Linked DNA regions of Homo sapiens. The protein of the gene in region 4 interacts with the protein of the main gene of each other region in a pairwise test. Each region holds a gene or a part of one and is shown on either strand. Other genes may lie near its edges.

The links.
Region 1: the proteins of APOL6 (region 4) and FNTB interact in binary tests that used the Homo sapiens proteins (3 or more experiments, as listed by UniProt).
Region 2: the proteins of APOL6 (region 4) and CHURC1-FNTB interact in binary tests that used the Homo sapiens proteins (3 or more experiments, as listed by UniProt).
Region 3: the proteins of APOL6 (region 4) and RGS13 interact in binary tests that used the Homo sapiens proteins (3 or more experiments, as listed by UniProt).

What each region holds. Positions count from the first base shown.
Region 1 is NC_000014.9:64,989,888-64,996,911, forward strand, and holds part of FNTB (protein farnesyltransferase subunit beta), read left to right. Parts: intron 1-7,024. UniProt on the Homo sapiens protein: Essential subunit of the farnesyltransferase complex. Catalyzes the transfer of a farnesyl moiety from farnesyl diphosphate to a cysteine at the fourth position from the C-terminus of several proteins having the C-terminal sequence Cys-aliphatic-aliphatic-X.
Region 2 is NC_000014.9:64,909,810-64,917,373, forward strand, and holds the start of CHURC1-FNTB (CHURC1-FNTB protein), read left to right. Parts: upstream 1-4,551; 5' UTR 4,552-4,605; coding exon 4,606-4,725; intron 4,726-7,564. Other genes in the region: CHURC1 (protein Churchill), read left to right, coding at 4,687-4,725. UniProt on the Homo sapiens protein: Essential subunit of the farnesyltransferase complex. Catalyzes the transfer of a farnesyl moiety from farnesyl diphosphate to a cysteine at the fourth position from the C-terminus of several proteins having the C-terminal sequence Cys-aliphatic-aliphatic-X.
Region 3 is NC_000001.11:192,631,159-192,639,163, forward strand, and holds the start of RGS13 (regulator of G-protein signaling 13), read left to right. Parts: upstream 1-4,988; 5' UTR 4,989-5,159; intron 5,160-6,431; 5' UTR 6,432-6,502; intron 6,503-7,005; 5' UTR 7,006-7,045; intron 7,046-8,005. UniProt on the Homo sapiens protein: Inhibits signal transduction by increasing the GTPase activity of G protein alpha subunits thereby driving them into their inactive GDP-bound form. Binds to both G(i)-alpha and G(q)-alpha.
Region 4 is NC_000022.11:35,651,435-35,658,458, forward strand, and holds part of APOL6 (apolipoprotein L6), read left to right. Parts: intron 1-2,169; exon of another isoform or gene 2,170-2,286; intron 2,287-4,944; 5' UTR 4,945-4,991; coding exon 4,992-5,041; intron 5,042-7,024. UniProt on the Homo sapiens protein: May affect the movement of lipids in the cytoplasm or allow the binding of lipids to organelles.

The DNA.
Region 1 (7,024 bases), on a different chromosome or scaffold from region 4:
AGTAACACCTTGGGATAGAGGGGATAGGGTGTGTCAGGAATGGGTGGGGTGGGAGCAGGGGAGGTCTTCATATAAGGTGTTAAGGGGAACCCTCTGGTGACAACACATGTGATCTGAGACCTGAAGTCTCAGATGAGGGAGGAAGCCATCATGGATCTGGTGCAAGAGTATTCTGGGCAGAGAAAGCAGCAAGCACAAAGGACCAAGGCAGCAGAATGCCAGGTGAGCAGGGGGCTTAGCAAACCAGAGAGTAGGAGATGGGTCGGATCATGTAGGGTCTCATTGGCCTTTGGAAGTACTTTAAAATACCCTGACTGAGATGGAGAGCCACTTGGCTGTATACCTGCCATTTACTGCCCCAGATTCACTTGGCCCTTTTCTAGCCTGCTCTGTAGATGTGCCCCAGGAGGGGGCCCTGCACTGACAGGTTGCCTTGCTTTATGGCTGCGGGCCATGGGAAGTATTGCTGGGGGTGACCGAGAAGGAGAAGAATGAGACCACTGTATTTCTTCCCTCCTGCAGGCTTGTGTGGGGTGGGGTTTCCTTAGACTTAAGGTCACATTTCCTGTCATGTGCCTTCTCTGCGGAGCTCTTTGTCTCCCTCCCTCTCCATCCTTCACACCTTCAGGTCTATGAGGAGTTCAGGTACCCCTGATTTACCAGCTCCAGATACTGCATTTTCTCTTGTGGTTTCCCTACACCTGCCCACATCTTTGTAAATAGTTCCTTTATAAACTCTCCTCAAATCACCCACTTTGTGCCATCTGTTTCCTGCCAGGACTTAGACTGATCCATGATCAGAGAGTTTTGAGCAGGGGAGTGACACAGTCTGACTAGCATTTTAACAGGCTCATTTAGGTTACTGTCAAGAGTAGATGGTGGGGAGTGAGGGTGGATACAGGGAAACCAGTTAGGAGGCTATTGCAGTATCCTGGGAGAGAGGTGACGGTGGCTTAGCTCACAGTGACGGTAGTGGAGGTAATGAGAAATGGTCAGCTCTGGATATTTTTATGAAGGTCTCTACCTTGCTAAGCTGTTTTGTTAATGCAGATGCAGGGAGGGCCTTTCATGACACTAGAGAACAAGACATGGTTGTATTGTTAGTGCCTGCCTTCCTTATTGTGCCATCTGGAATCATCCCATTGCAGACACTCTGATTCAGGCCAGTAGGTTAATACTGATAGTCTCAGAGGTAGCAGCCTTGCCAAAAACAGGTGTTTACAAAAGATACTACTGTTTTTCTTTGAGTTTGTCTTTGAACAGAGGCAAACGCGTCCTCCACTTTAAATGGCATGGTGTCATTGAACCATTGGCATGGTTCATTGTCAATGAAGTGACTTGAACTCTGAGGGGAATATAAGAGAATTATTAGTCTTGATCCCTGCCCTCAAAATTCTTTTATCTTAGAGAGATAAAAAAGAATATGCTGTAAGGCCGAGTGCGGTGGCTCACTCCTGTAATCCCAGCACTTTGGGAGGCTGAGGCTGGCGGATCACTGGAGGTCAGGAGTTTGAGACCAGCCTAGCCAACATGGTGAAACCTCATCTCTACTAAAAAAATACAAAAATTAGCTAGGCGTGGTGGTGTGCACCTGTAATACCAGCTACTCAGGACACTGAGGCAGGTGAATCTCTTTAACCTGGGAGGCGGAGGTTGCAGTGAGCCGAGATTGCACCATTGCACTCAAGCCTGGGTGACAGAGCAAGACTCCATCTCAAAAAAGAAAAAAATAAGAAGAATATGCTATAGGCAGTCACAGAGTGCTAAATTATAACTGCTTTGCACGAGGATTTTGGGGAGTTGAAAAGCCATCTGTGTGGGCTGAGGTGGTCAGGATGACTTCATGGAGAACGTGGAACTGGGTGGGCTGTAAAAAATAGAGTTTGGGGCAGCCATTCAAGGAGGGAGAGCTGTTTTGAGGGAAGACTCAGGCTTGACTGGGGGCGTTAAGATGGCTTACCAGGAACGGAGGGTGCAGGTTGGATGTGGTAGGAAATGAGGTGAGCTGGGCGGGTGGGCCCCTATCAGGGTATTAAGAGGCAGGTGATGTGCTGGCTTCAGGTTCGGGCAGTGGGCCACCACATATCCTAAGGAGGGACCAGCGGAACAGAATCCTGACCTGCTGTTGACTTATTTCAGCTTATAGGATCCAAAATATTAGTAAATGGAGGTGGAACAAATCACTAAATATGATAAAACTTCCCAACTTTTTATGCCTCTGATAGAAGGGACTGGAGCTCTGCTTGGTTAGGTGGTCAGTAGGCTAGCTTTCTGAATCCATTTTATTTTATTGAAATTCAGCATATACCATATTGCCCAAGTGTAAAGTAATCCTGCATATCAAAATTTCCCCATTAAAAAGTCCAAAAGGTTGTTTTTGGTCAAGTTGAAAATACATGTACTTTTAGGTATATAAGTGAAAAATACCTGCTTACAAAATTTACATTTAAATTTGGGTCCATATACCTACTTAAAATCACCTACTTTATAAAGTAACACTAATTTAGAAATGCTGGTTTTCCTCCTCTTCTTATTTATAAAATGTTTCTTTTCAGACTCTTCACATGCATCTTTGACTTCACTATTTTTATCATCACTGGAGCCACTTTTTGAGTCAGCCAATGTGGATTTCCGGACCACATGTTCAGTTCTTGAGATACATCGTTTTTGAATATGAATAAGGTGTTACCACTGAACAGTTTATTCCAAGTTACAAGTATCCACTTGCATAACATTAGACTTTTTTTTTAAGAAAGGGTCTCACTTTGTCGCCCAGGCTGGAGTGCGGTGATGCAATCACCACTCACTGTAGCCTTGACCTCACAGGCCTGCCTTGGCCTACCAAAGTGTTGGGATTACAGACGTGAGCCTAGAATTTTTTTTTTGCAGTGTTTCCAGTTGGTATATATTTGTGGTCACTGCAACTTAACCACTTTATTACTTTTTCAAATGATTTCTATTTTTTTTTAAAGACAGGGTCTCACTCTGTTTCCCAGGCTGGAGTGCAGTGGCATGATCATGGCTCACTGTAGCAACTTTCCAGGCTCAAGTGATCCTTCCACCTCAGCCTCTTGACTAGCTGGAACTACTGGCGTGCGCTACCATGTTCGGCTACTTTTTATATTTTTTTGTAGAGACAGGGTTTCCCTGTGTTGCCCAGGCTGGTCCCGAACTCGAGCTATCCGCCCACCTTGGACTCCCAAAGTACAGGCATGAGCCACCGCGCCCAGCTAAAATGATCTTTAAAACGTTGGTCTACTGGCCAGGCATGGTGACTGATGCCTGTAATCCTGGCACTTTGGAAGGCCAAGTGGGTGGATAGCTTGAGCCCACAAATTCGAGACAGCCTGGGCAACAGGGTGAGACTCCATCTCTAAAAAAAGTAAAAAATGAATAAACAAAATAAAAAGCTGGCCTTACAATGGCAGTTTACACATGGAAGTGTGAGTTTATATCTCCAGGGATAATTACTAAATTTGTGTTTAATTTATCTTGTTTCACTGATTACCATTAGCCAAAGCAGCCTTAACTGAGGTTGTTTTAGGGTATTGTGTCATCCCCAGCTGGTACTTTGTATTCAAAATAAGGAAATTGCAAAACTTCCTACAGCAAGAGGTACTTTGTAAGTATTTGAATATAAAGTGACTTGTATTTTCTGAGAGAGAATTTTTTTTGAAAAGTCTTGCCTTATATTTCATATATTAAATGACTCTTCTACTGCAGCTTCAATGACATGAATCTTAGGCAGCAAATCTACTTTCTGAAACATTCTGTCTCTGGGAGAGGAGGGAGATATAGGAAGCAGAGAAGTGATAGTGCCTGGTATGAAAGTTGGTGCCTCATGAGATTGGCTTTAGATAGAAGCTGTGAAAGAGAAAGTGCCAAATGCATTAGTTGTTGTTTACCACTTACTGAATGGAAACTATTCTCTGCTTTTATTGATTGGATTTCTTTTTTTTTTTCTTTTTTTATTTTTATTTTTTTTGAGACAGAGTTTCGCTCTTGTCGCCCAGGCTGGAGTGCAGTGGTGCGATCTCCACTCACCGTAACCTCCGCCTCCTGGGTTCAAGCGATTCTCCTGCCTCAGGCTCCCAAGTACCTGGGATTACAGGCATGTGCTACCACACCCGGCTAATTTTTGTATTTTAGTAGAGGTGGGGTTTTACCATGTTGACCAGGCTGGTCTCAAACTCCTGACCTCAAATGATCCACCCGCTTCCACCTCCCAAAGTGCTGGGATTACAGGCGTGAGGTACCATGCCTGGCCTAGTGATTGGATTTCTATTGATTAAATGAAAAACTCCATGAAATACCTTTTAAACAGAGCTGTCCAGAATGCAGGCATTTGGTTAGCTCTTCATTTATTTATTGCCATGGCACCTAAGTGTTGGGGACCCTAGTACAGTTACTTGATCCCTGGCCCCTAGAGTCTAACACAATCTCTCCATTACTGAACAATACAAACTAATATACATATAGTTATGTATCACTTAACAGTAGAAATACATTGTCAGTAGGAAATTTCCTTGTCATGTGAACATCATAGAGTGTACTTAACACAAATGTAGATGGCATAGCCTACTACACACCTAGGCTATATGGTATAGCTTGTTGCTCCTAGGCTACAGGCTACAAACCTACACAGTATGTTACTGTACTAAATACTGCAGGCAATTGGAACACAATGGTAAATATTTTTGTATCTAAACATATGTAAATATAGAAAAGGTAAAGTAAAAATATGTTATAAAAGATAAAAAATGATAGACCTATCTAGGGAACTTAGCATGAATGGAGCTTGTGGGCCTGGAAGTTGCTCTGGGTGAGTGAGTGAATGAGTGGTGAATGAATGTGAAGCCCTAGGATATGAGTGTACACTACTGTAGACTTTATAAACACTGTACACTTGTTACTGAGCAGACATTATGAAAAATAAAAATAAACACGGTATGCTTAAGCTACACTAAATTTATTCATACGCTTTTTTCTTTCAATAATAAATTAAACCTAGCTTACTGTAAATTATTTACTTCATGAACTTAAAAAATTTTTTTACAGCTTTTTGACCCTTTTGTAATAACAGTTTAAAACACAAGCACATTGTACTGCTGTACAAAAATATTTTCTGTATATTTTTATTCTGTAAGCTGTTTTCTACTTTAAATTTTTTAACTTTCTTTTTACCTTTTAAACTTCTTTGTTAAAAACCAAGACACAAACGCACACATTAGCCTGGACCTAGACAGGGTCAGGATCATCAGTGTCACTGCCTTCCATCTCCACATTTCATCCCACTGGAAGGCCTTCGGGGACAGTGATAGGCATGGAGCTGTCATCTCCTAGGATAACAGTGCGTTCTTCAGGAATTCCTCCTGAAGGACCTGCCTCAAGCTGTTTTATAGTTAATTTTTTAAATAAGTAGAGTTACACTCTAAAATAATAATATATAGTATAGTAAACATGTGAATTAGTAATGTAGTTGTTTATTATCATTATCAAGTGTTATGTACTGTACATAATTGTATGTGTTATACTTTTATAACACTGACAGTGCAGTAGGTTTATTTACACCAGCATCACCACAGGCATGTGAGTAATGCTTTGTGCTACAACATCATGAAAGCTGTGTTACTAGGCTGTAGGGATTTTTCAGCTCCATCATAGTCTTAACGGGACTGCCGTGGAATATGGGGTACGTTCTTGACCAAAACATCCTTATGTGGCACATTACTATATTAGTTTATATCATATATGTGTGTATAGTTTATAAGTTGATACATACTTAGTTTATATTATATATTTTAAAGATATATGTGTATATTATATATGTATATATTTTATATATATACATGTGTGCATATAAGTGTATGTATGTATATGTACGTATGTATGTATGTATGTATGTATAAAGCCTGACCAGCAAACTTGAAAACATTCTGTACACAGAAACACCTAGCCTGGGGCTGGGTGCAATGGCTCATATCTGTAATCTCTGCACTTTGGGAGGCTGAGGCACGCGAATCTCCTGAGGTTGAGACCAGCCTGGCCAACTTGGTCAAACCCTATCTCTACTAAAAATACAAAAATTAGCCAGGCCTGGTGGCAGGCACCTGTAGTCCCAGCTACTCAGGAGGCTGAGGCAGGAGAATCGCTTGAACCTGAGAGGTGGAGGTTGCAGTGAGCTGAGATCATGCTATTGCACTCCAGCCTGCATGACAAGAGCAAAACTCTGTCTCAAAAAAAAAAAAAAAAAGAAAAAAGAAAAGAAACAACCAAGCCTGGGCTGGGCACCGTGGCTCATGCCCGTGATCCCAGCACTTTGGGAGGCTGAGGCAGGAGGACTGCTTGAAGCCAGGAATTTGAGACCAGCCTGTGCAACATGGTGAGGCCCATCTCTATTATAAGAAAGAAAGAAAGACAGAGAGGGGAGAGAAAGTAAGAAAGAAAAGAAAAGAAACATCTAGCCTGTGCCCTGTCAGGAGCAGGGGTAAACTCAACTCTTGGGTTCCCTTTTTGCCATATCGTGAGTGATCAGTTGCCTCATGATTAGAGAAGGTGAGAGAGGTACTGTTAGGCTTAACATTTGTTAGGTTATACATTAAATAATGGGAGAGCTGGCCTTGGAACCTAACAGTTAGGTATAACATTGTGTTGATGGGAAAACAAATAAGGTCTAAAAACCAATGAACTTTGAGAACACAGCTTCTGCGTATGTTGTGGCCTGCCTATCTAAGTAGGTGTAGGGGATGAGGTATCACAAAACTAAGCACTTTGAAATCCTTTTCCTTTATTTTTCTAAGAAATTTATGGTTAACAAAAGTATAATAATGTAATTAAGAGCCATTTTTCTATAACTGAGAATTAACATTTGCTAACATCTTTTTTTTTTTTTTTTTTTTTGCTTCTGGTTATTTGTTTAAAGGAAAAGCAATTAGAAATATAGCCAAAGCCTCCTTTAACCCTATCCCCAGTTCAGTGTGCCTGCCACCCTTCCCAGAAGCAGCCCTTATCATAAGTTGTGTGT
Region 2 (7,564 bases), on a different chromosome or scaffold from region 4:
CCATAAAGGCTGGGGCACTTATTTGCTCCTTTCAACAAAAGATGAAAATAATAGATATGATCAGCATTGTGTCATCACTTCAGACTCTTGGCTTAAGACAGCATAAGACAAAAGAAAAAATAGAAAGAAGGTGTTAAAAGGAGAGTCAAACTGCACTCTTTAGGGAAAATTTTCATCTTACCACAGGGATGTAGTTTAGCACATGTAACTGAGCCAGCAATTAGGGCCATTTTAACATTTAGATTTTCTTTAATCAATTCCTTTTACAAGAGGTGATCTCATACGTAAACTGCAACATGGTTTGTTTGATATATCTCATGGACATCACATATTTATTAGAGACCCATAGGGGCAGGGTATTTCCCCAGAGAAAATTCTATTAGAAGATAAAATTGATTTTGCAAATTTTATTTTATATAGTTACCTATAAGAGAAAATATTTTTCTGTTTATTGTTTTTCTTATGTTACATCACTACTTGTTCATTTCATTCAGGTGCTAATCTTCTGCTTTGTAGCCTCTATTTTCCTTTCTCCCATCTGTCAACCTCAGATACTTTTATATTCCCATTACCACAGTCACACTTTAATTTCTGGTCCTGGCTACCTCTTCCCCCAAGTCTCATTTCCTGCCTCTCTTCTCTGAATGTGGCTAGATTTAAATGGAGGACTTCATTGGATAGATAGCCCTGAGCTCTTGAGCTTTTGTGACCATAAATATGACAACTTTTTTTTTTTTTTTTTGAGATGGAGTCTAGCTCTGTCGCCCAGGCTGGAGTGCAATGGCACGATCTCGGCTCACTGCAACCTCTGACTCCCAGGTTCAAGCGTTGCTCCTGCCTCAGCCTCCTGAGTAGCTGGGATTACAGGCATGCGCCACCATGCCCAGCTAATTTTTGTATTTTTAGTGGAGACAGGGTTTCACCATGTTAGCCAGGAGGGTCTCGATCTCCTGACATCATGATCCACCCGCCTCAGCCTCCCAAAGTGCTGGGATTACAAGCATGAGCCACCATACCCGGCCGACCTTTTTTTTTTTTTATCTTGCTCATTTTAATAACAAGTTATGATATAACTCTGGGAAGGTAAAAAAATTTCATAAATATGTAGATTGTCTTTCATGCCTTAGAATATGAAATCAATTCATGCTAATGGGTGTACTCTTTAAGATCTATGACTTTAGTGTAATTTTTAATTAATTTATTTTTGTTGTGTATATTCTCAGTGATGAGGCAGAAAGCTATACATCTCCCCCTTGTGGTTCCTGCTAACGTCTGCCTTTGGCATGTCCATTTTTTTCCCAGTTCCAGTAAGTCCCAATAAAATGCAGCTAAAATAATCTTTTTTATTTATTTATTTTTTAGGGACAGAGTCTCACTCTGTTGCCCAGGCGGGGGTGCAAGCAGCATGATCATAGCTCATTACAGCCTCAAACTCCTAGGCTCAAGAGATCTTCCCATCTCAGCCTCCTGAGTAGCTAGGACTGCAGGTGCACACCACCACACTAGGCTAATTTAAAAATTTTTTGAGGTCATCACTATGTTGCCCAAGCTGGTCTTGAACTCCTGGCTTCAAGCTACCCTCCTGCCTTGGCGTCCCAAAAGTGCTGGGATTACAGGTGTGAGCCACCACACCCAGCCTAAAATAATTTTAAACCACAACTCTGGCAACACTCTCCTGCTCAAACCTTCAGTTGCTCCCTACCACATGCAGAATAAAATCCAAACTCCTTGGCATGGTTCACCTGAAATTTCTATACAAAACAAAACAAAACTCTGCTTTTTGAAATTCTAAACATGCTTTAAGGCCCAAATTCCTCTTTCCTAATCCTCCCCCTGGGTGTAGTCTCATCATTTTGTGTTCTTATACCCCAATCTGCCAGTAATTATTAGTATTTGTGCTCATTTTATCTCTCAGACTAAATTGTAGCTGGGGAGTAGCAAAGGATTAAAAGTCAGTATTAGGCTTTAAAAACAGAGAAACCATTTAAAAATGGATGAAGAGAAAGAATTGGGCCAGGTGCAGTGGCTCACACCTGTAATCCCAGCACTTTGGAAGGCCGAGGCAGGTGGATCACTTGAGACCAGGAGTTCGAGACCACCCTGGCCAACATGGTGAAACCTCATCTCTACTAAAACTACAAAAAATTAGCCGGTTGTGGTGGTGTGCCCCGGTAGTCCCAGCTACTTGGGAGGCTGAGGCATGAGAATCGCTTGAACCTGGGAGGCAGAGGTTGCAGTGAGCCGAGACTATGCCAGTGCACTCCAGCCGAGGTGACACAGTGAGACTGCCTTAAAAGAGAGAGAGAGAAGAAAAAAAGACTAGCCCTGTCCAATAGGAATATGAGAGCTACATGTGTAATTTTTAATTTTCTAGTAGTCACATTAAAAAAGCAGGTGAAATTAATTTAATAATACATTTTTATTTAACCCAGTACGTCAAAAATTATTTCAACGTAATCATATAAATTTATTAATGAGATTCTTATATATTTTAATACTAAATCTTCCAAATCTGGTGTGCAGAATGTACTCACAGCACAATCTCAGTTCAACTTGCCATATTTAAAGTGCTTTATAGCCATAAGTGGCTAGTGCTACTGTATTAGAAAGAAATTGAGATAAGGATAGCAACAGAGTCCTAGCCCTGGCTGACTACTGAGTAGCTTTGTTACCATAGACAAGACCTTTAACCACTCACTTCTGTGGTTTCCTTATCTGAAAAGAGGAGACATATTTTTCTTACCAACCACATAGGATTGTAATAGCATAAAATTAGAAACTGAAATGAGGACACTTTTGAAAGGTTGAAAATGTCATACAAATGGGAGGTATTATAATTATTCTAAGAATAAGGTAAACTCTGATGGCTCTAGTTCTTGCAGTGTTTCTTAGCACACCTATGATTTTTAATAACAGTTGCAGATACTTACTAGAAGTTGAAATACTAAAGGTTACAACTTCAGTGCTTCCGTGGAAAAATAATTCCCATATTAGCAAACCCATTTAAACTGGTGTGCTTTGAAATGGTTATTAATCTCTTCTTTAAGGAATCTGGATCCCAGAGTCTCCCAGGCTCCCCAATCTTTCTTCCCTGACATGACAGCAATAAAGCAGGGCTGAGGGAGGATGTTGATGTTCCCATTGGGGTAGAGGAGTGTGATAAAGACGCATTGTTCAGAAACAGAGACAAACTTCGGAGATTCGTCTGCAAGTTAATTAGGTCGTTGCGAATAAATAAGATGCTTTCAATACAGAGAGAAAGGATGAGGCGGGGCAACAAGCACAAGCATTTTGAGACCCACAGGATTGGGAAATGATGCAGGAACAACTGACCTGGCCATTTTTCTTTCTTTCTTTCTTTTCTTGGAAGCACATATGTTTATTGGTTTTTTAATCTGTGAACCAATAGGTCATTTATAAATGGATGTGCAAATCTGAAATCAAAATATCTGCAGTCAATTCAATTAGATAATTTTTGAAATCTATTTATTTTTAATATACTTTAAGTTCTAGGGTACATGTGCACAACGTGCAGATTTGTTACCTATGTATAGATATGCCATGTTGGTGTGCTGCACACATTAACTCGTCATTTACATTAAGTATATCTCCTAATGCTATCCCTCCCCCCTCCCCCCACCCCACGACAGGCCCCGGTGTGTGGTGTTCCCCACCCTGTGTCCAAGTGTTCTCATTGTTCAATTCCCACCTATGAGTGAGAACATGCGGTGTTTGGTTTTCTGTCCTTGCGATAGTTTGCTCAGAATGACGGTTTCCAGCTTCATCCGTGTCCCTACAAAGGACATGAACTCATCCTTTTTTATGGCTGCATAGTATTCCATGGTATATATGTGCCACATTTTCTTAATCCAGTCTATCATTGATGGACATTTGCATTGGTTCCAAGTCTTTGGTATTCTGAATAGTGCCACAATAAACATACATGTGCATGTGTCTTTATAGCAGCATGATTTATAATCCTTTGGGTATATACCCAGTAATGGGATGGCTGATGACCTGGCCATTTTTCTATTTACATAGTGCTTGCCCGCCACTGAGGTGCTTCTGTGACACCTGAGAGAGATAGAAATACGTTCCTCGTTGCTATGTCCTCCAGAGGACTCTGGAATGACCAATTATTACTAATATTTTAAGTGTTTTTTTAGGAGATTTTCTGCAGCACTCTGAGTGTCTCTTCCCAAACACTTCGGTTACTGTTTATTCACCTGCTGAGATCTGGTCTCTTATTCACTCTCATTGCCTTAAGAAATGGTACAGAAATGTATTCATTAACATTTCAGATTTGTATATGCGGTAGCGAGAAATAATTCCCTTTCTTGTGTGTCGTGATTTGCCTTTCTTGTCAGCCTAAGCTCAGGAAGGTGTCTGTGAGAACTTCGCTCAGCCCAAGATCCCTTTCCCTTCCCGTCACATCTGTTAGCGCACAAGATTTCTTCGTCTGTCTCCAAAGGTTTCTGAAGCCCCACCCTTTGCCCACGCACGGTGCCAAGGAGACTGTGCCCTGCCTTGACAACAGTTGCTAAGGGGCGGAGACTTCGGCTCGGTTCCCGAGACGGAATACCCAGGAGTCGAGTACTTGGGCGCATGCGGCAACCGTATCTCAGTTCTCGCGAGGTTTCGTCTTCCCGGAAGCGTTGGAGGACATTCCCTGTTGACTGCGTCGCGATGTGTGGCGACTGTGTGGAGAAGGAATATCCCAACCGGGTGAGCGACTGGGCGCTCCCTTGGCCCGCGGGCGGCCCCCGAGGTGTCTCATATCCAAGGCTGGCCTTCCCAGAGAGGCCGTACGTGGGGCGGACTCGGCCGCACTGCCGGTCCCGGTGACCCAGTAGCGGTATTTAGGCACACCAGGGATGGCCTGTGGCGGTCTGCACCTCTGGTACCCGCCCTGGCGGCTGACCTCAGTTGTAGTGGCCGTTCTCTTGAGCTCCAAGGAGCAACAGAGGAACCCCACCACCACCACAACCCCCGTCGACAACCGAGGGACTCCCCCACCCCCACTTCCGGTCTCATCCTCAAGCTCGATTTGATGAAGTACAATTTTCTTACCGAATTCTAGCGCTGGAGGGGACCTCTGTGGTCATCTGTTCTAACACTTTTGCAGATGAAGAAACCGATGCCCAGAGAGGGGAAATCACTTGCCCAAGTTCACATTCTAGTTGCATGGATGAGAGCCAGGACTAGAATTTAGGTTTCCTGCCTGTTACCGCCTTCTGAATCTCAGTTACTTTCAGGTTCAGGAGTTTGCAAAGCTTGTCTATTCTCATTCATTCAAGGCATCCTTGTTGAACATTTATATATGTGTAGTTAGATTACTTTGCTAGGCCAGAAAGGGATTATTTCTCCTCTCTTTGAGACAGGGTGCTGCTGTTGCCCAGGCTGGTCTCAAATTCCTGGGATCAAGTGATCCTCCCGCCTTGGCCTCCGAAAGTGCTGGGATTACTGGCATGAGCCACCACGTCCAGCTGGATTATTTGTTTCAGAGAAGAAATTAAAAGGCACCTTTGGTGCTGCCTAACAGCTTACAGTTTTGGGGAGTATGTGACTAACAAAAAATGAGTAGCTCAGTTCAGAAATGCTATTCAAGTTTAGGGAAAGGGGAGGGCAATAGGGGATAGTGCTGTTCTCCCCTGAGAAAAGGTGGACATCATCTAAGACTTGAAGGACAGTTGTAATTAGGGTAGAAAAGAAGGTGAGGAGCTGGAGGATGGGGGAAAATTACAGAAATGGAATTTGTGCATTGGTTGGGAAGGAGGGAGAAAGTCTCTGTAGTTCCTTATGTCTTAGTATCTTATGGGTAATACTTAGGCTTTTGAGTAGCATGTATAACAGTATGAATTCTCCTGTAGTACAACTACTTTGAAAAAGCGGGTGAGCCTTATAAAATACAGACATGACCCAGTGATTCCCATTCTAGAAAAATGCATGTGTATATGCTTCTGAAGACTTTTATAAATAAGTGTTCATAACAGCATTATTTTTGTAGTAGATTGGAAAAGTAACTGATACATTCATTAGAATGGAACACCATTAATGAATGAGGAATGGAAGTGAATGAATTAGAGCAGTAGTTCTCTACCAGGAGTGATTTTTGGCTCTTAGGAGACATTTGGCAATATCCAGAGACATTTTTTGGGTGTCAAAAGGGGAAGTACTACTGACTGCTAATGGGTGATGCAAGGGATGCCGCTAAACATCCAGCAATACATGGGACAGCCACCACAACAAAGTATCACTCCCAATGTCAATAGTGTGGAGGTAGAGAAACCCTGAATTATAGCCGTGAAACCAAACTAGAATTACACAGCAGCCTGAAAAGTCTTACAAATAGTGTTGATGAAAGAACACATAAAGTATAATTCAAAAAGAGGCAAACCAAAATATATTATTCAAGGATGTACCTGGGTGGTAAAACTGTAAGGAACGTATACAATTACTGTTAAGTCGAGATAGTGGTTACTCCTAAGGGATTAGGGTGTGATCAAGAAGGGTCACATGAGAAAAAGTCTTCCCGGGTGCAAGCAGTGTTTTATTTCTTGATTTGGGTGGTGGTTCTACAGATGTACACTTTATAATCATTTCTTGTTCGCTACATTTATGTTTCATGTACTTTACTATGTACTATTTCATTTTTTTAAAGTTTAAAAAGATTTTTATGAAACCAGTAATAAACATGAGCTATTATGAGACCATGAGGGAGGAGTTTGCAGTAGAGAATATTAAAGAGATTAGGTTGGATTCTTTTTTGTTGTTGTTTTTGTTTTTGAGATGGAGTCTTGCTCTGTCGCCCAGGTTGGAGTGCAGTGGCATGATCTCGGCTCACTGCAAGCTCCGCCTCACTGGTTCATGCCATTCTCCTGCCTCAGCCTCCCGAGTAGCTCGGACTGCAGGTGCCCACCACCATGCCCAGCTAATTTTTTTGTATTTTTAGTAGAGACAGGGTTTCGCCTTGTTAGCCAGGATGGTCTCGATCTCCTGACCTCGTGATCCACCTGCCTCGGCCTCCCAAAGTGCTAGGATTACAGGCGTGAGCCACCGCGCCGGGCCTTAGGTTGGATTCTTAAGAGTGGAGTTATTGTAAAACTTAAAAGTCATATTGAGAAGTTTAGAGTTTACATTTTAGGCATTGGGCCACCATCAAAATTTTAATAGAGAAATGATTCTGAAATCTGTTATTTAGGAAAATGAATCTTATGGCTGAATGTTGAAATGGTGGGGTAGAGGGTGTGTAAAGACAGAACTCCACAGGGCATTTGAGGAGCCATGGCAACAGTGGTGTAGGCATGAGATAATGAAGACCTTATTTCAAAGAAAGAATTAGGTTGGGCACGGTTCTCACACCTGTAATCCCAGCACTTTGGGAGGCCAAGGCAGGTGGATCACTTGAGCCCAGGAGTTTGAGACCAGTCTCAAACATGGCAAAACCCTGTCTCTACAAAAAATACAAATAGTCTGGGCACGGTGGCTCACGCCTATAATCCCAGCACTTTGGGAGGCCAAGGCTGGCAGATCACCTGAGGTCAGGAGTTCGAGACCAGCTTGG
Region 3 (8,005 bases), on a different chromosome or scaffold from region 4:
CACTGATCTGGGGGAAAATATAACTAGAATGCCATTTTTCCTAAGTTCCTTTGTTTGGAAGTTTTTAAAAGAGTTAAAACAAGCTTCACGGTTTATTAGATATTATTTTCTGTAGTGTTTGAAAATGTTATGGGGTAAAAAAAGGGCATGTGTTTTTAATGCCCTGAACATTTTCTTTTTCAAACAAAAGTCATCCTTCTTGTGTCTCGGTCCCCGTTGTTCTTCTTCCCATTCTGCCCCTTTGCTCAGCTTCATCTATAAAAATCATTTGTGTAATCTCTATTGGCCCCACGCTGTACATTCAGGATGCCTTATGTAGTTCCAGGCCTCCAGGATTATATTTCTTATAACACCAATCACTCTTCATTTTCCTTTGGATGTTATTTTCTTTGGGCAAAATTACTTTTCCTTTGTGTAAAAATGTTTTAAGAAAATATTTTCCATATCTGCAAAAAGCATGTAGTTGATGCACTAGTTTTACAGTTCTTAAAGCAACTCCTCAAATATTCAGACTTGAGGGGGAATTAAACAACACTTTTTGTATGGAGGAAAGCATACCAAAGTAGGTTTCTGAAGCTTCTGGGATTGCAATTTTTAAAATTCTTTGCCTTTTCTACAAAACTAAACTTGTTTTATCTAATCTTATTTGCATTATCATATCTTTCAGAGGTTTTAAGATATAGTGTCATAATCCTAAAGAAAAACATTTGCCTTGTATTTTATTCTAGTTCCTTGTTTGACTAAGTCACAAGGACACCATTGTTTAAATTTGCATGCCTCATAAAAATATATATTTGTGTAAATTATACTTACAAAGCATCTCCAGATATATCTCATTAACCACTACACAAATTATAGGTTACAAAAAGGTTACAGTCAGAGAGGCAGAACTACTTCTTAGGAAAGTATGAGATATGGGAAGCTTGTACAATATAATCCTTCCCAAACTTCACCCTATAATTTTTATCTAAGTGAAAATTGGTTAAAATGAACATTAGGGTAGTTTTTAGCTTGGATAAATCCTGTTGGGAAAAAAAAACTATATCCATCTATTCTTTGAATATTTATTGAGCATCTACTACATCAGTCTGAATGCTATGTCCACATATGCATTTGAAGCATGAATGAGAAAAGTGGGAGACTCCTTTGGTAAAGCAGGGAGAAGGAATGCAGGCTAATTCTGAGCTCTGCGCTCTTTTAGTCTCTCCTATCAGCTGACTGAGGTACCTATTTCTTTTAAAATGTTCCCTGCCTCTGATTCACTACCTAGCCATCTACTGCCCTCAATCACCAGACACCACGTAAGTCCTGAGGATAGATTTGTTTCAAGAATAAGACAAAAAGTATTTCAATGGTGATCTACAGAAAAACCATTTTAATTTCTGTGATAAGAAAAAAAAAACCGGAAATGTGGCACAAGTATGTTTGTTCTGTACTTCTATAGTAGAAAATTTATATACTTTGCACATGGCAGAACAGGACAGGCTTATCTAAACAATAAGGGATAGTGAGTTGATTAGGTGATTGGAAACAGGCTTCAGCTTTGCAACTGCACATCAGTGGGCCTTGTATGTTCAAAGCATTCCGCATCTAAAGAAGCAAACGATGCTTTCCATCTGTGATAACAAGGAAATGCTAAAGTTCCAATTTCCTTGACATTTTATTGCATTTACTTTTATCTAAAATGAGTATATAACATTATCTTATATAAAAGGAAAGCATGGTAGACGAGACATATCTTGAAAATCTTCTCTCTACCAGACATCCAGAAATGCTAAAAAAAAATATGTAACAACCCCATTTAAATGCATAGGCAAGCTTGCCAAAACTAAGAGAAATCAAGAAAAAAACAGAGGGAATCCTAAATCAGAGTGATAAACTGGCATTTAAAGTTTAGCTGAGTTCAGCATTTGCTAATCTCAGTAACCTAGAGATCTGGCTTTTAAGATCTGTTGCAAGCCAGGAAACAAAATCAAAGGCTGTCCTAATATGAGCCGGGGGCTCTTGAACTGCTATACCTTCAGTGAAACAGCAGACAGAAAAAAAACAAGTCACCTACAAAAATTGATGACAGGAACATGTCTATTTCAGCATAAAACCAGGTCTGTAATTTAAATTTACCCTACCTGTGTGGTCCAGGAGACCCAAGCTAAGAAAATAACAAAGCAGTCTTGTGTTAGAGAAGTGCCTGGGCTGCCTGACAGAGCCAGTGCAAATCCTCTTCAAAGGGACGTGCCCTTAACCCCATCCTTAGAGAATTTCACAGATCAAACAATGTGAAAGTACAAAAGAGCTAATAGACTCATCTCAGTGCAAATTAAACAACTGTGGAGTGTCTCCTTTTTTTTTTCCGGGAAAAGAACACTTTCCTATGTTAATGTTACCCCAAATACACTGGTGGAAACAATAAGATTTGAATGAATTCCCCAGAATTTAGTCAGGAAGGACAAGACAATCCACCAAGTGCTCAGAAGAAAATAGAAACCAAGTAGGACCACTGGTTTTTTCAATTACATGCTGGAGATCTGAAACCTGAGAGCACTGCCGACTTTCTGGAAGGGCCAAGAGAATGGATTTAAAGCAGCTACCAAAAGGGAACTAAGAATGATTGGGAGTTAGTGACTAAACTTTATAGCATAACAGGACCATGATTATAATTAAAGACATCTTTAAAGCAAATCATCTGAATAAATGCACACAGAATTGGTAACTAACTTTAATTGCTACTGAGGTTTATTTTATGCTAACAATAGTGTTCAATGCTCAGTAATCTCTTCCTAATTTTTGTTGTCGGTATATTTTGGGTTCACACAAGTCAGAAACCAAAGTTAGATTGTTTCTAATTGGCAGCAAACCAGAGGGGACGGGAGACTGGTCAAGTCTCTGAGTCGTCCACTCCAAGATGCGGACAATGAGTGTATGAAGACAGACTGAGAATGCGCTGCAAAGAAGCTTGGAAGAAAATGAAGGCAGAGAGGACAGACCTGAAAGGCTAAGAGGGACAGATCAGCGTCCATGGAAAGCAGGAGCAGAAGCCAGTCTTCTTCCAAACACTGGCACAAACCACTGCCTACTGGATACATTTCACCAGACAATTCACCCCAGTGTCCAAGAGTTTATCTTGCTTCTAGAATATATTGAAAAGAGCCACCCTCTGAACAAATGGCAAACACTATATAGTATAAATAGGATGCACTGAAAATAGTAGGCTTATTTCTTAAGCTGTCATCACGAACATTAACCAGTAATTATATTTCTCCACTTTTTGTAGAAGACATAAATGGCAAATTCTGAATTTATAATTTCTAATACTTCATTTTTCTGCTCTTGTAAAGTTCATTTTGAACTTTCAACATAAAAATATTAAAGATTTTTAATTGTGCACATTTGAACTTGTGTTACTTTGGACTTACATTGGCTGAAATTGAAATATAGTAAAAGTGCTCTAGAGTAAGCAGATCAGTTCATCAGAAGGACAGCCTTTCAATGGAAAGGGCATTCCCAAGCTGCACCAACGAAAGCATAATCCTGTTACCTGCCCTAACCTGACAGCTCTGAATTAGTCTGATCCACCTATGTGCCGTACAAAGCATTATATTGCTATGATTTCATAAACTGAACTTGAACTACACTTTTTCAGAGAAACAAAACCATGTTTAGAAATCTGCCACAAATATCTACACATTGCTCTTGAATTCCTCCAGGAATTTCCACCTACTCGTGCTGTTACTCTTCACTCTATGATTTATTTGTTTTTCAGTCCCTGTCGATACTTAAGTTTTACTCTGTAGGGAGATTCTCATGTTTGACTCCATTAAACAAGCTTTGAAACTGACACTCGCACAGGGTGTTACTTCCAGAATCTTCCTGCCAGCTCCTTGCATCCACACCATGAGAAAGAGCAAACATTCCAAATCCCAAAAAAATGAATTATTTGGGGTGAGGAAAAGTCTTGACTATGACACTGAAGATTTCCTGAAGAGATCCAGCATCCAAAATGTCCTGAGTGGGGAGGAAATCGCACACCTAGCACCCAGAGAAAATGAGTGCTATCCACAAACAACCCAGATCCTCCCAAGCTGAGGCTAACCTGCCCTTCACTTCCTACATTATTGCTACATCTACGCAGCTTCTGACTTTCCAAAGTTTCCTTTCCTTTTCTAGTCCCAAACTTATCTCTCAGGTTTGAGAAATTCAATTTTCTTGGGTTTGAATCTCAAAATTATAAAAGACAAGTAAGGTTAATCTTCTATCTCATTGGGCCCCTAAATATTTTAAGAAACACTCCATCAACCACATTTTGATCTTCTTTACTGCTGTTTTATTCTAGCATTTCTTTACTCCTACCTCTCTGTTTCTCTCTCTCTCTCTCCCCCCAAACCCCCCAACTCCCCCACCCCTCCCCACACACACACACAATTGGAGTAAATCCAGGACAAGGGCATTCACAATCTTACCATATTCTGTATTCATTAGACCTTATCTTAAGCACTGTGTTCAATTCAGATTTTGAAGGCATGTTAACAAACTGTAGAACAACGGAGTCCAGAACTGCTGTAGAGGACCAGTTGAAGGAACTAGAGAGGTATAACTAGAAAAGATACTTTTTTAGATCCTTCAGTTGTTAAAAGTCCCTAGTAATCTATTACAAACAGATTGATTTTAATAGTTCTCAACCATTTGCTAACATGTGTTTGCAGTGATGTCCTATGTGTTTGTACTCAGTTCTCTGTCTTTTTTAAAAGGGAATTTTACTTTAGACTATACATTTTCTAAAACTAGAAAAATTATTTTGGAGAAAAAGATTTGAGTATTACTTTGAAGATTTCATGAAGCTGCTGCTTCCAATCATCTGATCACTTCAGATGGTCTGATAATGTTAGATAAAACCTCTTTATCAGTAATGCACTGGAGTCCTACAGCACTACTTTCCATATTCAACAAAACCTCTCTTTGCATAGATACGTGTGTGTAAAAACAGAACATTCATACTGAGGCCAGAGTGCCATCGAAGGTAATTATAGAGACAGTAAAATCCTTTTACTCTGGGAAAAATAAAATGCTGGGTGTCTCACAAAATTTCAGAACCTGATTTCAAACGGATCATAACAAAGAGGAGATCAAATTTAGCATGGTGGACTGCTCGACAGGATATATTTGTAAGTATGAGATTCTATAAAATAGTTGATAAATACAAGACTATTGGCTTGCTATAAATCACTAGCAGATGCTGATTTCAATGGTAGAACTTCTGGGAGTGTTAACAGAGGTTTTTCTAAGAAAAAAAGACAAACTAACAAACACATATTCTTTTGCCTGGCTTTCTATATTTAAAACAAAACTTAGAGTCACTCCTTATATAAATAAATCTTCTAAGTTGGGCAACAGAGGAAATGCTACAGTTTTAAAGTATATTATTTCATTTTATGTTTTTGTGTATATTTTCATTTTAAATGTTTTTCATTTTATATGTTTAGATAAAAACATATTATAAAATCAGACATAGCTGAATTATTTGTTTCAAAAATCATGCATTACCAAATTATTAGTTCCATCCTTTGTTAACTGTACTGAAGCCAGGTGTGGATTATTATAAGGTTTATCTGAAACATTGTTAATCTTGATTTTGTAGAATTTTTTTATTCTTTTATGTTATGCTTAAGCACAACTATGCACAAATTTCTTGAATTTTTTAAAGGACAAGAAATTTGTGTGCTGTGGTCAACAAAAGCTCACTAAAATATAAATTGCTCCAAATTTTACTAAATTTTATGTAACATGCTATATCATAAAATAAAGAAACATATTTAAATGCAGATATATGTAAACAGACAGAATTGCTTTAAGAAAATTTATTTATTTTCATAATACTTTAAGATTTCATTTAAATAATGGAGGAAACAAATCTAATTCTGGCATACTACTAATACAACTCAATCCATTACCAATGCATTTATAATCACTCTGAGAATTAGATTCTATCGGTGAAATGTATTTCTTTCAAATAATTATCAGGAGAAAACAGTGGAGGCAAAATCATCGTGGAGACCTAAACTTGTTCTAAACACTCTATGTTTCGATTGTAAAAGTACACACTAGTTTTACCAAGAGGGTATTGAAAAACAAAAAAGGAAAGCAAATTAATACACAATATTAAGATAAATATAGATTATTTAAATAAAAAGTAATGGAAAATTACAAATTAAAACAGTAAAGAAATTTTTATAATAAGCCATGATATTAACACAATTTTAGATAAAGAGTTAATAAATAAAAATGGGAATAACCATAATCCAGCATTTCCGAGGTGGAAAAAGTATTTACTTAAAACTTAAGAGCATTTACAGTAATCTTTGCCAAATATGCATTCTCCAGGAAGCACACAATAATCTTTTTGTTTTTGTTTGGTTTTGTTATTATTTTATTTTTAGGTCAATGGAATGTTTCCACATATTATACCACCAACATGAGAAAAAAATGATCATTGTTTATTTGAAGCTTGGTGAGTTTATCCACAATTTAAATCAGTTCTACGTCATGCCAATTTAGATCACTGTTTCACTGGGAATTCTCTTTTTGCCAAAGTAGATTTGTAGTTCTATAAAATATTTAAAGTTATTTTTTATTTTTATCCATATTGACTACTTGAACTCTAATTTTAAGGGTACAACTAAAGATGCCCTTGGTTGGATTTAACTAACAAAATAAATTTATCAATAGGATGTTTTAATCAAATCCTTATCCTAAAGAACTTTACTTTTGTAAAAAATTAGAACATTCCCTTTATGGAATTACCAAGGATATTTCTTAGAAGTTCTCAATTGTAAATGTGAGAGGATTTCATTCTGCCACTCTATATTGGTGCTATTAAACTGTCGATTGAGATGTATTATTTAATGATAAATATTGTTGAATGTAGGATTGTAGATACTTCTTTTTAAACCAATGGTTATTTTGCAAATTCTTTGTCCTCAGACTGTGAATTATATTTTCTTATTTTATCAGATGATATTCTAACGCTGCCTTTTCTCTTCTCATTTTAGAGGTATGAGAATTTTAATTTCTACTTCTGAGCATCTGCCTTCCATCTTCCAAAATTACTTTGGAATATTTTGTCATTATTTTTCCCCTTGGTTAATCTCCTTTTTCCTTCAGTTTAAGCCGTACATGTTCCTTTACTATAATATTATTAGTGTTTGGGTTGGAAGAGATAATAAACTCAGGTGGTCAATCTGACCTTTTGTACCTGAAGCTGGGTTAAGTATTTTTTAATTTATCTCTTTGTTTCAATGTAGAGAGTGTTATAAGGATGGGGGTGGGGGGTTCTGTGATATTCCAACAAAATAGTGGTACATGGTACGTGTGAATCCAGTAGTAATCAATAGAGAGAAACACAAACATGTGGATGGACTTTCAGTCCCAGAAATCTTAGAATACAGGCGGGAAGGCACCAGGCTCCAGGCACAGGAGCAGAACTCTAGTCACTGGAACAGCGTCCAGTCTCCAGTTCCATTTCCTAAAGGACAGGAATACCAGAGAACTTCTTATAGTCTATTTATTCTATGCATAACAACTCTTAGGGTCTATTTATTCTATGCATAACACATGTCATACACAATTCTGTCACTAAATATTTTCTGCAATTTAATCATTGATGCTTTTATGACATTATATTCTATTTGTATTCCATAATTTAATAAATCTGTAAATGTTTGACTTAGAATGCTAACCAACATATAAACAACTACTTATATGTAATCATCAAATAACATTCGAATGTAACAATTTAGGAAACTTAAAGTCTAGTAGGAGTAGATAAATCAGAAATATAAATAACATTATATCTATATATATTGCTTCTTTTTCAATGTCACCTAACTAATAAGTTGCTTGGACCAAAGAACCCTCACTGAATCAGTCATGTAGCTGAGCACAGGGCTACTATTAGTGTACACAGAGTCTTTGCTGGAATTATTAAAAAGTAGCCTTTTCACCACATGGATGA
Region 4 (7,024 bases):
GAATCCAGGATAATTTCACCCGGAGAAATGTATACATGTGCCATGTTGGTGTGCTGCACCCATTAACTCATCATTTAACATTAGGTATAACTCCTAATGCTATCCCTCCCCACTCCCCCCACCCCACAACAGGCCCCGGTGTGTGACGTTCCCCTTCCTGTGTCCATGTGTTCTCATTGTTCAATTCCCACCTAGGAGTGAGAACATGCGGTGTTTGGTTTTTTGTCCTTGCGATAGTTTGCTGAGAATGATGGTTTCCAGCTTCATCCATGTCCCTACAAAGGACACGAACTCATCCTTTTTTATGGCTGCATAGTATTCCATGGTGTATATGTGCCACATTTTCTTAATCCAGTCTAGCATTGTTGGACATTTGGCTTGGTTCCAAGTCTTTGCTATTGTGAATAGTGCCGCAATAAACATATGTGTGCATGTGTTTTTATAGAAGCATGTTTTATAATCCTTTGAGTATATACCCAGTAATGGGATGGCTGGGTCAAATGGTATTTCTAGTTCTAGATCCCTGAGGAATCGCCACACTGACTTCCACAATGGTTGAGCTAGTTTACAGTCCAACCAACAGTGTAAAAGTGTTCCTATTTCTCCACATCCTCTCCAGCACCTGTTGTTTGCTGACTTTTTAATGATCGCCATTCTAACTGGTGTGAGATGGTATCTCATTGTGGTTTTGATTTGCATTTCTCTGATGGCCAGTGATGATGAGCATTTTTTCATGTGTCTTTTGGCTGCATAAATGTCTTGTTTTGAGAAGTGTCTGTTCATATCCTTCGCCCACTTTTTGATGGAGTTGTTTGTTTTTTTCTTGTAAATTTGTTTGAGTTCATGTAGATTCTGGATATTAGCCCTTTGTCAGATGAGTAGATTGCAAAAATTTTCTCCCATTCTGTAGGTTGCCTGTTCGCTCTGATGGTAGTTTCTTTTGCTGTGCAGAAACTCTTTAGTTTAATGAGATCCCTTTGTCAATTTTGGCTTTTGTTGCCGTTGCTTTTGGTGTTTTAGACATGAAGTCCTTGCCCATGCCTATGTCCTGAATGATATTGCCTAGGTTTTCTTCTAGGGTTTTTATGGTTTTAGGTCTAACATTTAAGTCTTTAATCCATCTTGAATTAATTTTTGTATAAGGTGTAAGGAAGGGATCCAGTTTCAGCTTTCTGCGTGTGGCTAGCCAGTTTTCCCAGCACCATTTATTAAACAGGGAATCATTTCCCCATTTCTTGTTTTTGTCAGGTTTGTCAAAGATCAGATAGTTGTAGATATGCGGCATTATTTCTGAGGGCTCTGTTCTGTTCCATTGGTCTATATCTCTGTTTTGGTACCAGTACCATGCTGTTTTGGTTACTGTAGCCTTGTAGTATAGTTTGAAGTCAGGTAGCGTGATGTCTCCAGCTTTGTTCTTTTGGCTTAGGATTGACTTGGCAATGTGGGCTCTTTTTTGGTTCCATATGAACTTTAAAGTAGTTTTTTCCAATTCTGTGAAGAAAGTCATTGGTAGCTTGATGGGGATGGCATTGAATCTATAAATTACCTTGGGCAGTATGGCCATTTTCATGATATTGATTCTTCCTACCCATGAGCATGGAATGTTCTTCCATTTGTTTGTATCCTCTTTTGTTTCATTGAGCAGTGGTTTGTAGTTCTCCTTGAAGAAGTCCTTCACATCCCTTGTAAGTTGGATTCCTAGGTATTTTATTCTCTTTGAAGCAATTGTGAATGGGAGTTCACTCATGATTTGGCTCTCTGTTTGTCTGTTATTGGTGTGTAAGAATGCTTGTGATTTTTGCACATTGATTTTGTATCCCGAGACTTTGCTGAAGTTGCCTATCAGCTTAAGGAGATTTTGGGCTGAGACAATGGGGTTTTCTAGATATACAATCATGTCATCTGCAAACAGGGACAATTTGACTTCCTCTTTTCCTAATTGAATGCCCTTTATTTCTTTCTCCTGCCTGATTGCCCTGGCAAGAACTTCCAACGCTATGTTGAATAGGAGTGGTGAGAGAGGGCATCCCTGTCTTGTGCCAGTTTTCAAAGGGAATGCTTCCAGTTTTTGCCCATTCAGTATGATATTGGCTGTGGGTTTGTCATAGATAGCTCTTATTATTTTGAGATACGTGGCAAGGACCTTCTTGCTGTGTTATCCCATGACAGAAGGCAGAAGGCAGAAGGGCAAGAGGGCGTGTGCGAGAGAGGTGAAGGAAGGAGGCTGAACTCTACTACTACCCTCAATACTCACACCAATTTACCTTCTTCTGGTCACCAAAATATGTGAGTTTTTTTCCCTACACCAAGCAATTCTCCACTTCTTTATGAGAACAAACTTGGCATCCTACAGTTTAACTCAATTCTGACACTATCTCCTTGGAGATACTATCAGATCCCCCAGGTTAAGGGCTCAGTCCCATAAGACTGCCCCTACTTCAGACACCAGTTGTAAGTGGTGGGTCCCCAGGTTGCCCACAACTTTTGTCCAACTTGGTGACACATGGAAGGTTTCCACAACTCCCTCCTCAGTTTCAATAATTTGCTAGAACAGCTTGCAAAACTCAGGGAAACACTTATTTACAATGACTAGTTTATTATAAAGGATCCAACTCAAGAATGGCCAGACGGAATTGATGCACAGGGCAAGATATGGGGGAAGAGACATGGAGTTCCCATGCCCTCTCTGGGCACACCACCCTCCAGGTACCTCCATGTGTTCACCAACCCAGAAGCTCTCTGAACCCTGTCCTTTTGGGTTTCTATGGAGGCTTCCTTACACAGGCATGATGGATTAAAGAAACTATGGGCCATTTGTGGTTAACTCAATCTCCCGTCTCTCTCCTCTCCTGGAACTCAAGGGGTAGGGCTGAATATTCCAACCCTCAAATCACATGGTTGTTTCCCCAGACAAGCAGCCCCCCATCCTTGGAGGCTTTCTAAAGTCACCTCATTAACATAAACTCGGGTGTGGCTAAAAGGGGTCGGTTATGGTTAAGAAAAGATGCTCTTTTCACCTTTACTGCTCTCATCGCTCAGGAAATTCCAAGGGTTTTAAGAGCCCTGTGCCAGAAATGGGGATAAGAACTCTCTCTCTCTCTCTCTCTATATATATATATATGTATATATACACACACACACATACACACACATATATATACACACGTATATGTAATTATATATCTATATATAATTATAAATCACAATATCACAACATATTATGTTCTTGGGAATACAATTTGTACAAAGGGGCCTTGTAAATTACTGCTTTGTTTGGTGAAAATGATCCTTTAATCATTACAGTCTATGTGGTCATAATTGTGAGAGAACAGAATAAGCTACCCCCAGATATGCCTCTTTGGCATAGGGATTATTGAGGCGAAGGCAATTAAGAAGCAGCAGATGCAGGAAGGTTCTCTGTCCTCTCTCTATTTGCCTAAAAGCAAGATCTAAATTTACAAAGGTCTTTCTATCAAGGAGAATAAAGGTTAACCACTGAGAACTTTAGACCCTTATAGGCCTGGAGATGGTACCAGAGGAAGCTGCGTAACAAAACTTACTGACTAGTTTCTTTCTATCCTTCATTTCCTATTTATTTGTCTACCCACAATTTGGTGGCCCTCAAGATGCAAAGTCTTTTTTCTTCATCTTGTCCCTTCTCTAAAATTGTATAGTTCTTTGTTGAAGGTGGCTATATAAGCAGGGAGTTCCAAGCCACTCCTTTGAGAATTATTTATTCCCTGGTGTCTCCTACATACACTTAAGAGGTACATATTAATCCACTCCTGTTTGTTTTTCTCTTATGAATCTGTCTTGGGTTACAAGGATCCTAGCTGAGAACTTAGAAGGGCAGAGGGAAAATTATTTTTTCCTCTCTTATAATATCCATCTAAGGAATCACTTACCCAGGTCAAGATGGAGAAAAGGAGATTTCCTTGTACTTCCTCCTCCCAGTCAATAATCGCACTACCCGAGAAGAAACCTCGATTCTGACTTCTACAACCAATTCATTTGCATATTATTGAGTTTCATATAAATGGAGCCATTTGTTTGATTTCTTTCACTCAATAATAATGTCTGTGAAATTATTCCATGTTGTTTGGGTATCAGTAGTTTTCAAAATTGTTATTGCTATGTAATATTTAACTATATAAAAAAACTATAATTTGTTTGTTTATTCTTCTGTTGATTGATGTATTTGAGTTGTTACCAGCCCTTGGCTATGTATGGGAGGAAAAGTAATTTTTTTCTCAACCCTCATAAGTTCTTAGCTGGAACAGACTCCTGTAACCCAAGACACATTAACGAGAGAAAACCAAGCAGAAGCGTATTAACATGTCTATTTCATATGGACATGGGAGAGATCCAGGGATTAAATAATTCTCAAAGAGGTAGCTTTGAATTCCAGCTTCAATACATCTCCAACAATGAACAGTACATTTTTAGAGAAGTAGCAAGACAATGGAAAAGGGTTTTGAGTCTCCAGCAGGAGCAACTTGTGGGAAAGTAAGTCAATGTCATCTTTGGTGATCAAACTTTATCCTTCTTGTTAGTGAGGAGACAAGGGACAGCTTTACCTTTGTCAATTTATGTCTTGCTTTTAGGCAAATAGAGGGAGGGTGGAGAACTTTTCTTGTACCCACTTCTTCTCAATTACATTTGGCTCAAAATAATCCTTATGCCAAAGTGGCATATTTTGGGATGGTGTATACTGCTACCCTCCAATATAGAGGTAAAAATGTATTGAACTGACTATTTCACTGTATGCATTTATTGTATGTAAGCTACACCTCAACATACAATTTTCAAATAATAGTTTGCAAATATTTAGTATGCTATGTGGTTGTTATTTTGATAGTACATAATCCAAAATCCCTCCACACCTGAATTTCATAAGGTTTCATCATATGTGCAGTAACGTTGTTTTTCTACATTCCTGACCAGAAAATCATTTGACTCCTGGGGACACAGATTTGCTGCCACAGAGGCTGATGGACAACCAGGCGGAGAGAGAAAGTGAGGCTGGTGTTGGTTTGCAAAGGTAATCCAAAGGGTGTAGTCCCCAGGGAGAGGGCTGATTCTGTTGAAATGCTGCAGGCATCCTCACGATAAGGAATACATGTGCTCTGATAGGATTAGCTGTTAAGTGGGCCTTATCTTACCGCTGGTCTCCATTATGCATATGAAAATCTGTTCCCCTAGGGAAAAAAATACTTCATGGAGCTAAAGTAAATATTTTGGAGAGCAAGTCAAGATTAAGTCAGGCGCATGGCTTTGGGCAATAGGACTCCAAAGACAAAAATTGCTCCACTCTGGGGCCTCATCTCTGCAACTGTCTTGAAGACAGGAACTCCATTTCTTCAGCTCATATATCACCAAGGAAGGAAGCCATTTGGTGTTAACAAATTAATGAATTTAAGCCCAGTTGTCTGTAAATCAGCAGACGTAGCACCACCGGCCCCCTGCACAATGTGTGCAAGTAACAAATATTTGCTGAGTGAATTAGACGAACTCTATGTGTAATATGTCATGGAACTGGACTGAAATGTTATCCAATGCCAGTAGACATCACCAGCTGATACAGGATTCACTGGAGCAGAGGTGTTCACATGTGAGACGCTTGGTTTAATTAAGAAACACATGAAGTCAAGCTTCTGTTAGTTATCAACCATGCTAAAACCAAAAACTTTACAGTTCATACACAGTGGCGTTGTTGATCTTTGCAGCTACATATCTATTTGCTGTTTCTTTTTGTCTAGCATACCTTGAGGAAACACAGAGATCAGGGTGGGCTAACCTATGGCATCTTTTATGTCTGGGGTTCTTTGTCAGGGCCACCCCGCTTGCCTTCATCCCACCCCTTCCCCATTGCAAGCCCTGGTGACCTTCTGCTCTGTTAACTGATTTACACCTGTGGATTAATAGATAATTGTGCCTAAATTTATTAATTCATTAACACTTAAAACATATGCTCGATGGTATATTTAGTTTCTAATCTTTCCCACTGAGGAATTGTGTGCGTGTGTGTGTGGAAAGAGAGATTTAAAGATAAATACATTTATGGACATACATATACTTCAATGAGGAGGCCCTGACATCAACTGACAGGTGAGAGGAAAGGCAGAAAGCACCAAGTTTAGGACTCAGAGCCCACCCAATGCTCCATCTTTACCTTGCATGTTCCTTTGGGAGTGTCCTCTTTTCTCTCTGGGCTTGAGGCCCCCCACTGAATCATAAAGGAGGTGGCCCAGATCCTCTCCAGGCCTCCCTCCAGCTCTGATGTTCTTCTTTGGGCCAGGGCATCTGTTATCACCAGGCCTCCTCGGCTCACCCTGAAGGAAATGCACAAATGGCACCTTGCATGAGAAAATGCCCCAAGCAGCAGGCTTTGCTCTCACCCTGATGCAGCTCTGCCTTGAAGGTCAAAGCCAACTGGCCTGGCAAAGATCCCTTCGTACTTCATCCTGTAAAATGTTGGAGGAAGAGGGGCCTAGGTCTCTTTGTCCCAAACTTCTTCCATGAAGGACTAATCCCATCTGCTTGAAGGGTCAAGTAAAGCTGACCAAGAGCAAGGAGAGCATTCAGGACATGAATAATAATTTATCTCAACTCTCAATGTGCAACTCCTGATAGAAGCAAAGACACACCCCAGAGTAACCAGATTCGAGGTCATTAGAGTGGAGGATGTATGATGCAATATGGCCCCCTCCACCCTCCTACTCACTTCTACACATCTGGGACGCTCATCCCCTGCCCACCACCTTGTCTTCTCTTTCTCCTACTTTTCCCAGAACTCTCCCGCCATTGTTCCCAAGTTCTTTATCTTGAGTGGGGTTTTAACATTTCCCCACTGCCCCTCCTCTGCAGCAGTGCTGTGCTTTCTCTGAACAAGGCTGAAAACATACCTCAGGACTTAATTTTCCTTCCCCATTCCTTGACCAAGGCTGGGGTGATTCACATTTGTCCTTCCACATGCCCCTCTTATGTGTTTCTTTTTTCCATGGAACCAGTAGTTTTCAGCGAA